2 separate regions of the Homo sapiens genome follow, and region 1 is linked to region 2. Evidence: fine-mapped expression QTL. A gene starts in region 2. The other region holds a variant in brackets. All regions are shown on one strand. Distances are between the middles of the regions. Region 1 has its middle 17 kb from the start of MPZL2. Region 2 holds the start of MPZL3 (myelin protein zero like 3).

Region 1 (5,391 bases), 29 kb after region 2:
TCTCTTTAAAAGCTCTTTAGGCCAGGATCGGTGGCTCATACCTGTAATCCCAGCACTTTGAGAGGCTGAGGTGGGCGGATCATTAGATCAAGAGATCGAGGCCATCCTGGCCAACATGGTGAAACCCCGTCTCTACTAAAAATACTAAAATTAGCTGGGCATGGTGGTGTGTGCCTGTAGTCCCAGCTACTCAGGAGGCTGAGACAGGAGAATTGCTTGAACCCAGGAGATGGAGGTTGCAGTGAGACGAGATCACGCCACTGCACTCCAGCCTGGGCAACAGAGCAAGACTCTGTCTCAAAAAAAAAAAAACCTCTTTAAAAACTGTTTTGTGCATAACTATAATAAAGGTATAATTTTCCATTTACTTTAAGGTCTCTTATCTTATTAAGCTGGATGTATACCTTAACTGGCTCTTCTTAATTCACAGATTAAGGCCTTTCATGATCTGCCTCTGTCAACTAACCAGCCCCTCTTTCCCCACTTTCCAGGCTCCTTAAGCCTTATTCATCACTATGCCAAACTAATCACATACTTGTTCTTACCTCCACATATATATTTGTGCATATGTTCTGTCTACTTTATCCAGCTGATCAACTCTTATTTGCCTTTCAAAATTAAGTTCACATTCCATGAAGCCTTCCCTGTCCCCTGGACCTGGAGTTAATAGTTCCCTTAGCACCTTGGGACACCTTTTTTATAGCCTTTGCTGCACTGTATGGTCATTACTTGTTTACACGTCTGCCTCTACTGTAGACTGAATCCCTCCAGGGCAGGGTTCATGTCTCTGTATCCCCAACACCTAACTGTTAGGCACATAGTAGATGCTCAATACGCATTTGCTGGATGAGTGAATGCATTCTTACTGAAGCATCTGTGTGCCCCACACCTCAGTGATGCTAAGCAGTATGGAGCTCCCACTGTTGGAACCTAAAGAAGTTTACTAAGGAAGTGAAGTGACAACCTAAAACTCAGTCCCAGCTTTAACTTGGCTTATCTTTGCATCTAAGTGAAGATCATCTCTAAGACTGGGATATCTACACTGAACAAGGGCTTCCCACCTTCCTCTGTTTTCAGCCTAGGTGCAACCATGAAAGGAAAGGAGCAAATGTAATCTGTATCATAATATATTCTATTTGAACATGATTAAATTAAAACTAATTGATAATGTCGATTAAATAATAAACACTAATTAAATACTAATTGTCAGAATGTGTCTCCTACTTTTATTCACTCTTTATAAGTTTTAATTACTAAGTTAATGATCAAGAATGGTACTATGTTGGGCTGAAACCTAGGATTTGGAATATACCCATTCATTCATCTACCAAATAATGTTTAAATTGAATTTAAAAACTAAGGCTGAATAATTATAGAGCACCTGTTATATGTCTAACACTGTGCTGAAAAAAAATATATGAAGATGCCATATTTAGCTTCATGGAATTCACAACCCAGATACTAGAACCTTCCATCTGCAAAGCTCTTTGCAAAGCATTTGAATACATTGTATCATTTAATTCTCACTATTCTATTCTACCCAATTTTCCTCATCTACTTTAGATAAGGAAAATGAGGATGACAGAGATGAAACAGTTTACCCAGTTACTCAGCTCACTCTGGCTAGAAAATAAATGGAAAAATTAGGGCTGAATCTGGGAGTTCTGTCTCTAAATCCAAAGCTTTTCTCATGGGCTCACACAAAGTCAATAATTTTTTTTTTTTTTTTTTTGCTTTTTACTATGGAACATTTCAAACATATACAAATGTAGATAAAATAATATAACAAACCCCATGTCCTATCACCCAGCCCTTATTATCAGCAACCCATGGTCATTTATGTCTTTATCTACCCACCCAATATTATTTTGAAGCAAATTGAAGATACCATATCATTTTGCCCATAAATATAACTTCTGTTAAAAGATAAACTTTGGCACACTTTAAAACTTTGAAGAGTTTATTTGAGCAAACAGCAATTCATTGATCAGGCTGCTCCAAACTGGAAATGGTTTGGGCTTCGAGGACGGAGCAAGAGGGGAAGGCTCTAATAGGGTAAATGCAGAAGCAGAGCAAAGAAATTATTTGATTGGTTAAACTTCCAGAATTTCCTTATTTAGACTATCCAATAGGAAGTTAAAGACAATATAACTAATGCCCAGATGGCCTTCTGTGATTGGCTAAGTTTCTTTTAAATTAACTGCTTACAGGAAATGAGACTGAGTTAGGTTTTAGCTTGCTTAGTAGGAACTTAGTTAGAGCCTCCTCAGTCTAATGCCCCCCCCATTTAATTATTTAAATACTTCAACACCATTATCATATTTTATTTTATATTTTTAGAGATGGAGTCTTGCTCTGTCACGCAGGCTGGAGTGCATGGCACAATCAATTATCTTGCCTCAGCCTCCCAAGTAGCTGGGACCACAGGAGTGCACCACCATCCCTGGCTAATTTTTTTTTTATCTTATAGTAGAAACAGTCTGTCTATGTTACCCAGGCTGGTCTTGAACTCTTGGCCTCAAGCAATCCTCCTGCCTCGCCCTTCCAAAGCGCTGGGATTACTGGCCTGAGCTACCATATCCAGTCTCCATTATCATATTCTAAGAGAATTAGCATTTCCTAAATGTCAAATAACCAGTGTTACAATTTCCAGTTATCTCATAAATGTTATAACATGTTTTTACAATTTGTTTATTTGAATGAAGGTCCAAATAAGGTCTAAAATTTGCAATTGGTCTTTATGTTTCCTAGATCTCTCTTAATCTATGGGTTCCTTATTATCTTTTATTATTATTCCTTATTATTTTTTGTTTCCTTGCAATTTACATTTAAAGAAATTGAGTCATTTGTCTCATGGTTTTCCACAGT[A/AT]TTTTTTTTTTTTTTTGCCTGCATCACGAAGGTGTTGTTTAATATGTTCCTCTGTATTTCCTATAGACTGGTATTGTATTTAAAGCAGTAGTTTTCCATTTTTAGTGAGCATCAGAATCACCTGAATGATTTGTCGCAACAGGTTGCTGGGCCCCACCCTCAGAGTTTCTGATTCTGGTCTGGGAAAGTCCCAAAAGTTTGCATTTCCAGCAACTTCCTGTGTGCTTGATGCTGACCACTCCTTGAAAGCTATTGATGTGGACTGAACTGAGGCTCAATCAGATTGAAATCTGACTTTTTTAAAGCAAGACTACCTCACAGGCAGTGTTGTGGTCTTCCTCCAGGAGGAATATAGTATGTGGTTGTCTCCTTTGTGTGTTTGATGTCAGTAGCCTTTGATGCTCAGTGCCCAGATCCATTCATTCATTTGGTGTGCAAAGTGATGATCTTCTAATCATATCATCCCTACTTTATTTATTAGCTAGACTATTTCTAGAAACAGAAACTCCCTCATCTACAAAGTGACTACTCACTGGGATGGTTCATATAGAAAAGATCGATTTTGAGGCCGGGCATGGTGGCTCACGCCTGTAATCCCAGCACTTTGGGAGGCCGAAGAGGGCAGATCACGAGATCAGGAGATCTAGACCATCGTGGCTAACATGGTGAAACCCCGTTGCTACTAAAAATACAAAAAATTAGCCGGGCGTGGTGGCGGGCGCCTGTAGTCCCAGCTACTCAGGAGGCTGAGGCAGGAGAATGGCGTGAACCCAGGAGGCGGAGCTTACAGTGAGTCGAGACCGAGCCACTGCACTCCAGCCTGGGCGACAGAGCTAGACTCCGTCTCAAAAGAAAAAAAAAAAGAAAAGAAAAGATCGATTTTGAGCACAATGCATTGGTTCACTAGCATCTTCCAATGATTAGCAATGAGAGTTTTTTGTTTTTAGTGTTATTACACATAATGACATTGTGACATAATGACCAGCCATTCCCCAGTCTCTCTTCACAGGCCTCCCAATTCCCTGAGACACATGATATTGAAATTAGGCCAATTAAACCCTACAATGGCCTCTAAGTGTTCAAGTGAAAGGTAGTTAACACACCTCTCACTTTAAATTGAAAGCTAAACATAGCATTAAATATATTTGATGTGTTTCAAACAACATCATTATTATTCTTATTGATTCTCAAATTTTCTCATCTTTGGCCATCGGGAGCCTCTTCAAGTTGGAAGAGGCTCTTCCAGCTTCAAGTGCATCCTTGCAAGGTGTGTTTGCTGCATTCTTTATGAATGTTAAAGTCTGCTATAGAAAGTAAGAGAAGGAAACAAATATGGAGACTAGATGAAATTAAGTGTAGAAGCAAGTAGCTTGTAAGACGTGTTAGACCTTGGTAAGTAGAGCAGATTTATGCTGATATAAGAAGGGATGGACAGACCAAGTAGACACAAGACACAGGAAACACCAAATATTTATGAGGCACTGAATATTCACAAAAATTTAAACCAGCCATCCCGTTGTGACACCCATTCTGGCAATCTGCATCCTCTGCCTGAGATATGCAGATAAAACCCATAGCTGCCCAACAGGGTAATCGGCAAGCTACAGCTGTAGCCAAGGATTCTTGCCCTTGCCTTCCTACAATAGAGCAAGAGTGTTTGGGCTCCAGGCCCAGTCAATTTGCTGAGTCCTCTTGCTCATCCACAACTCAGGTCCTTGTAACCATCGGTGGGGAAGGCTGATGCAATAGAAAGATTCGGCATATGAGCGTTACATAACACAGAACTCACATAGGGTACTTCTTCCACCCTGTGCTAAGGGTGTTAACCTTCCTCATCTCTTTTCCATTGCTTCTTACTAAACATTTTAATTGAGTTGATAAACCAAGTGATTCAGGATCGTAATTTTGTCTGTGAGCCATTCTGTTCTGTGACCTCTGGGATAGCTTGTTATGTAATATGTTAGAAGGTTATCATTGCACCAAGGTAATTCCTCATGTGACAGTCCTTTTGACCCATATGACGAGATGTTCCAGGCTCATCTTGAACACTTCTTGCCATAGACTTAAAATCATCCGCAATTCTTCAAGGATCCCTGATTTCTTTTAGTGGGAAATGGTGTTTGAACCTACAATCTGGGCATTAAGGATACACTGCTACGAGGGTGTTAAATTATTTTTGTGACTCATCTACTGCTTTATGCTGTATAGGCAGACCTCATTTTATTGCACTTCACTTTATTGCACTTTGCAGGTATTGTGTTTTTTACAAATTGAAGGTTTGTGACAACCCCATGTAGAGCAAATCATTTTCCAACAGCATGTGCTCACTTTGTGTCTCTGTGTCATGTTTTAGTAATTCTCACAACATTTCAAGCTTGTTTATTATTATTCTATATGTCGTGGTGACCTTTGATCGTGATCTTCGGTGTTACAGTAGTAGATGTTTTGGGGCACAACAAACCATGCCCATACATGATGGCAAACTTAATCAGAAAATGTTGTGCGTGTTCTGACTGCTCCACA
Region 2 (5,391 bases):
TCTTCCACTCATAAAAAAAATACCAATCCAACATTAATTCACTCAGAAATGTCCATCCCAGGCCTAATGCCTTTATCTCTTCATCTGAGCAGAAAAGCATTCTTGCCAGGTAAAAACAGCCAACTATAGAAATACTCATAATAATTAACAAAAACTTTTTAGTCTGGGGAAAAAACAAGAAAATCACATTTTCACATAAGTAATTTTACACATGAAAGAATTAAATGTGTCAATAAAGCCCCCAATCTTGTATGCCCCATTTTCTAAAATACAAATCTACTGATATTTTATTCATATTGCACACCTAAGTAAAAGAGAGAAAAGTTTAAGAAACCTAGGTCCCCTAGTCTACCATTTCTAAATACTTAGATAACTGATATAGCAGGACCAGACTTATAACTTAAGGAGAATTCAAATAATCTAATAATTTAAGTGGTCTTATCTTTGAAAACAAAAGGCAAATAAACACTGACATGAAACCAAACTCAACCACATAAGATTTAAAACACCAAACAAATGGATGAACCTTGAAAACATGCAAAGTGAAAAAAGCCAGTCACCAAAAGCACATATTGTGTAATTCCATTTACTTTATTTTTATTTATTTATTTATTTATTTATTGAGGCAGGATCTCATTCCATCGCTCAGGCTGAAGTGCAGTGGTGCAATCCCAGATCACTGCAACTCCGACCTCCCAGGTTCAAGTGATTCTTCTGCCTCAGCCTCTCAAGAATCTGGGATAACAGGGGCATGTCACCACACCTGGCTAATTTTTTTTTTTTTTTTTTTTTTTTTTTGTATTTTTTGGTAGAGATAGGGTTTTACCACGTTGGCCAGGCTGGTCTCAAACTTCTGACCTCAAATGATCCACCCACCTCGGCCTCCCAAAGTGCTAGGATTACAGATATTATTCTATTTATATGAAATGTCCAGAATAGGCAAATCAATAGATACAAAAAAATAGACTGGTGGTTGCCAGGGGCTAAGGGAAATGGAGAGTGAGGAGTGATTGTTAATGGGTATCAAGTTTCTCTTTGGGGTGATGAAAATGTTCTAAAATTGATAGTGGTAATTATTGCATAACTGTGAATATACTAAAAACCATTCAATTATGCCCTTTAAGACAGTAAATTGTATGGCATGTGAATAATATGATAAACCAGTTGTTTCTTTTTTGTTTGTTTTTGTTTTTGTTTTTTGAGACGGAGTTTCTCTCTTGTCGCCCAGGCTAGAGTGCAATGGCGAGATCTCAGCTCACTGCAACCTCTGCCTCCTGGGTTCAAGCGATTCTCCTGTCTCAGCCTCCCGAGTAGCTGGGATTACAGGCGCCCGCCACCACGCCTGGCTAATTTTTTTTGTATTTTTTAGTAGAGACGGAGTTTCACTATGTTGGTCAGCCTGGTCTCGAACTCCTGACCTCAGGTGATCCAGCTGCCTCGGTCTCCCAAAGTGCTGGGATTACAGGCAAGAACCACCACACCCTGCCACCAGTTATTTTTTAAAAGGCAAAAAATCTATTCCACAAGTACATAGAGATTGTAAAATCAACTTTAAATGTTTGATTGAATTATATGGTCTGCTGGACTTGACAGATGCTCTTCAAAGCAAAATGACATTAGATTTAAGAAAACACCATTTCCAGATTTTTTTTCTCAATAAGACAATATTTGAATATTTCTCGTGTGTGTGTGTGTGTGTGTGTGTGTGTGTGTGTGTGTGTGAAAGAGAGAGAGAGAGGACTGGGTTTATTAGGAGTGACAGTAGGCCAGCCTAAATATCATACTGCAAAGTAATTTAGCTTAAAAACTGGAGACTTATGATGACACAGGCAGCTGGGAGGGATCGGGGGTGTGCTGGCAACATGAATATTAGTCACCAGTTAAAAACTTTCCAGCCTTAACTGCTAAGATTTAGGACATCTGAAGTCTTTATATTAAACTATTTATATTTATATAATATTAAATATCTCTTTCAGAAATCCCCATTACCCTCAAGGAAATTTTATAAATTTAGCAATTCACTCTAATACTAGATATACTAATATTTTATTTCCCAGGAAGACACACATACACAAAATCCAGGAAATAATTGTACCTTAAGATGAAGGTAATTAGGCTGGATTGAAATTTATGCAATTTGAAAATTATATGAAAGCAAAACTCACCTAATTTTAAGATGTGAATGTCAGTGTGAATACCCTACTTCTGATATTACTTAATAAATTTTAACAGAATTTATATGCTCTTTCTTGTATTAAAAAAAGTTATGAAAATGCTAAAGCAGTTACTTTTTCATCGATATGCTTCTCTATAACGAATCACATCACATCCCTTCTGTGACTAGCAAATATTTCATTTTATAGACTACAATAATCACCTACAAAAAATAAAATTACCAACTGTCATGATTTTGTTTCCCAAAACTACTGGGGCAAACTACTGAATGCTAGAACTGTTTTCTTTCTAATCAGGGTATACAGCGCCCAAACGACAGCGGTCAACCACTGATAATAACACCACAAAATAACACCGGGTGCCCCCAAAGCCAGAGCTCTTTGTGGTTCCATCAAGTATGCTATCACCAAACTACAATGACAGGTCACGCAAGGTGAAAAAGCTCCCAAAGCTCAGGAAAGGACTGACAAAATACCAACTATCCTCAACGGGGTGGTGATGACATCGTCCCAACGTCCCGCTCCCTCCCTCCTTCCTTCCCAGAGCTATGCGGGGGCTTTCTGGAGACCCCCCTACCCGGAACCGGAAAAGCGACCATCTTCCCTAACCCCCCGGCCGGAAGTGGAGCGTAGCCAGCCGGAGCACTCACCCTGGAAGAACAGGACGCCCAGCAGAGGGAAGAGAGCGCAGCCACGGCTTCCAGCTGCTCCTCTCTGCTGCATCCCGGCAGCTCTTCAGATGCTTGCACACCTTGTTTACAGCTCCCGGTAACGACACAGGTAACACCGGAAGTGACGTCAGAGCAGGAGGCCGAGAGACAACTTAAATGGCGATCCGAAGTTACCATAGGAACCTGGCTTCTTTCCAGAACCACACCTGGTTTCACTGACCAGAGATTTATTAACTTTCAGGCGGGAGCTAAATGCTCTCTTTTGCTTGAAAATGAAGTAGGCTACGGACTTGGAATAATTACAATTTTGTTTTTATGGAATTCTGCAGAACTAAATAATTTTGATGCTCTGACTGCATGTCAGACATCGTTTTTACGTCTCGAGATTTAGTTGAAGGTTCTCAGAATACACTACTGTAAATTTAGAGTTCAGAAACACCTGGGAGATCATACAGTATAGATAAATATATATTAGGTGCTTGTAGTGATATGTGCCACAAGCCTCATTGGTTGGTGTCCTTTTTAGTGTAAGTATTGCAGCCTCCAAAATTGGGTGTTTATTAAATTACTTTTGGCGGTGGCAATGATGATCAAATCATTACAGCCTGTATTAGAGGAAAAGAGGAACTGGGATTTCTGTGTCTTTGGTTGGAAAAGTAAGAAAGTTATGTTATCACAGTACTTGAAGTGAGATGGCGTCACATACTTCTGAAAAAGAGATGGTACAATAAGTACACTGCTTTAATAATCAGTAAGCCTCTTCCCTGGAAATTGCCACATGTCAATGAAAGCAGGAGGAGAATAAAAGTATGCTTTCGCTTTGGGGAAGAATTAATAAGTTTCCATTTTTCAATTTCCATTCCTTTACTAGACTTGAAAGCCAGTAGTTTTCCCTATTAAAAGTGTAATGCAAAGTACTAAATAGAATCTTTGATACTTTTCTTTGAAAGAGCCCTCAAACTAAGTAGTGTTGTTATGCCCAATTCCCAGCTATCCAAAACAGTGTGAAAATTCTGTGGAAATCCGTATACTTCTGTTTACCCATTAGAAACTAACTGTATCCATTATTGACTTGCAGGTTGTCTCTACTAAGAAAACTTTTTGGTAAAGATTAAATATATATCCATCTGTTTTTCCTGCAATGTAGAACTTCTAGATATGTATATACACAAATTATATAACTGATAATTCTTTATTACTAAAGGTTTATTTACATAGTGTTTAAAGCATAATAAAAAATAAATTACAATACAAAAGTGCTCTTTAGGAAGGAGACACTAAACAACAGGCCCATATTACCCCTTGACTATTTAGCCAAGACATAAGCTACAAATTTTGCCGGAAAAACTGTCCATACATTTTTAACTACTTCTTCATTATTCTTATGGACCATCATCCAGGACATCTGTTTGAAGAAATATCCAGTTATAATATTTTCAAAGGTTAGAATTGTGAAGAAAAAATATAAAATGTGATTAAAGGATATATAGCCTTCAGATGTAATTTACAGTTTTAAAATTGCACTTTAAAACTTTGCTTTTTTAGACAGTATAAAAGGCAGAATGAGACAGATATGTAATGAATTTCAGAACTGAGGTTCATATGTAAATCATACAATTTTTTAAAAAATAGTATTGGAAAAATATCAAGGTCTATACATTTAAATACAGATAATCTGTTTGAAAATTCCAGTTTGTTAAAAGAAAAAACATCTGCAGTCCAGTCGATTAAAAACTGAAAATATCAATCTGTAAAGATTGATCTTGAGCCTAAACTTTTAGATGCTTTCTATCCTTTGAACAAATGCTTCTGTATCTTAAGCTTGTAACTTTTCTTTCAATAGCCCACTTATAAAGTTTGCTTTATCTACCAGTATGGGGGAAAAAAAGAATAAAGTTGGTTTTATTCCATTTAAAGTAGTTTTGGTATTTCTTTGCTCCATACCAAAGTCTTCCTCCCCCAAAATAAACAAGTGAATTAGAATTAAAAAAGAAAAAAAGTTAATAATTTCTTCTAGTTCTCAGAGTTTTATATAAAACTGTACAAAATTATCATCATTTAGAGTTGATTTTTTTCACCAGCCCTGAATTTTCAAACTTGTAATATGCTGTTTCACAATTTTTTTATTAAATTACTTAATGATTCCAGTCTGCAAATGAGCATAGACTTTGCTCTGTTGTTATAGATCATTGAATTGGGGGGGAAACATAGTAAGCTAAACTATCCGTCACTGCTCATGAAAGACCCACATTGTTGATTATTTTTCCCAGCACAGAAGAAAAGTGACAAGTGATTCATCCTGCAATGGCCTCTGCCAATCTTTTCATATCTATGTAACCTTTTGTAGTTACTGTGTGATTTAGCGTTGTGCTATTGTAAATCTTGGATTAATTAACAAAACAACAAAAATCTATCACCTGGAATATTGAAAGAAATTCAGTAAAACAAGATGTGTCTCATAGTTAAGGAGAGACATAAAAATAAAAATGTCATTTAACAGTTTGAATTTAGGATTTACTGTTAATCAGAAACACCGAGGAGGCTTA

Evidence for each region. PIP is the estimated chance that this variant, and not a neighbour inherited with it, causes the effect.
Region 1: its variant is the best candidate, but not a certain one, in a credible set for the expression of MPZL3 in monocytes (Quach 2016, PIP 0.57).

What each region holds. Positions count from the first base shown.
Region 1 is chr11:118,278,369-118,283,759 of GRCh38, forward strand. No RefSeq gene overlaps it. Among named protein-coding and RNA genes, the nearest start is that of MPZL2, 17 kb to the left of the region's middle. The variant A/AT (reference allele first, on the strand shown) is at 2,869.
Region 2 is chr11:118,249,398-118,254,788 of GRCh38, forward strand. MPZL3 (myelin protein zero like 3) reads right to left here and starts at 2,968. Exons shown (of 6, transcript NM_198275.3): 1 at 2,825-2,968. The coding sequence starts at 2,897. It overlaps MPZL2 (myelin protein zero like 2), which reads right to left. Exons shown (of 6, transcript NM_005797.4): 6 at 4,019-5,391. RefSeq lists enhancers at 2,288-2,849, 2,451-2,500, 2,850-3,410.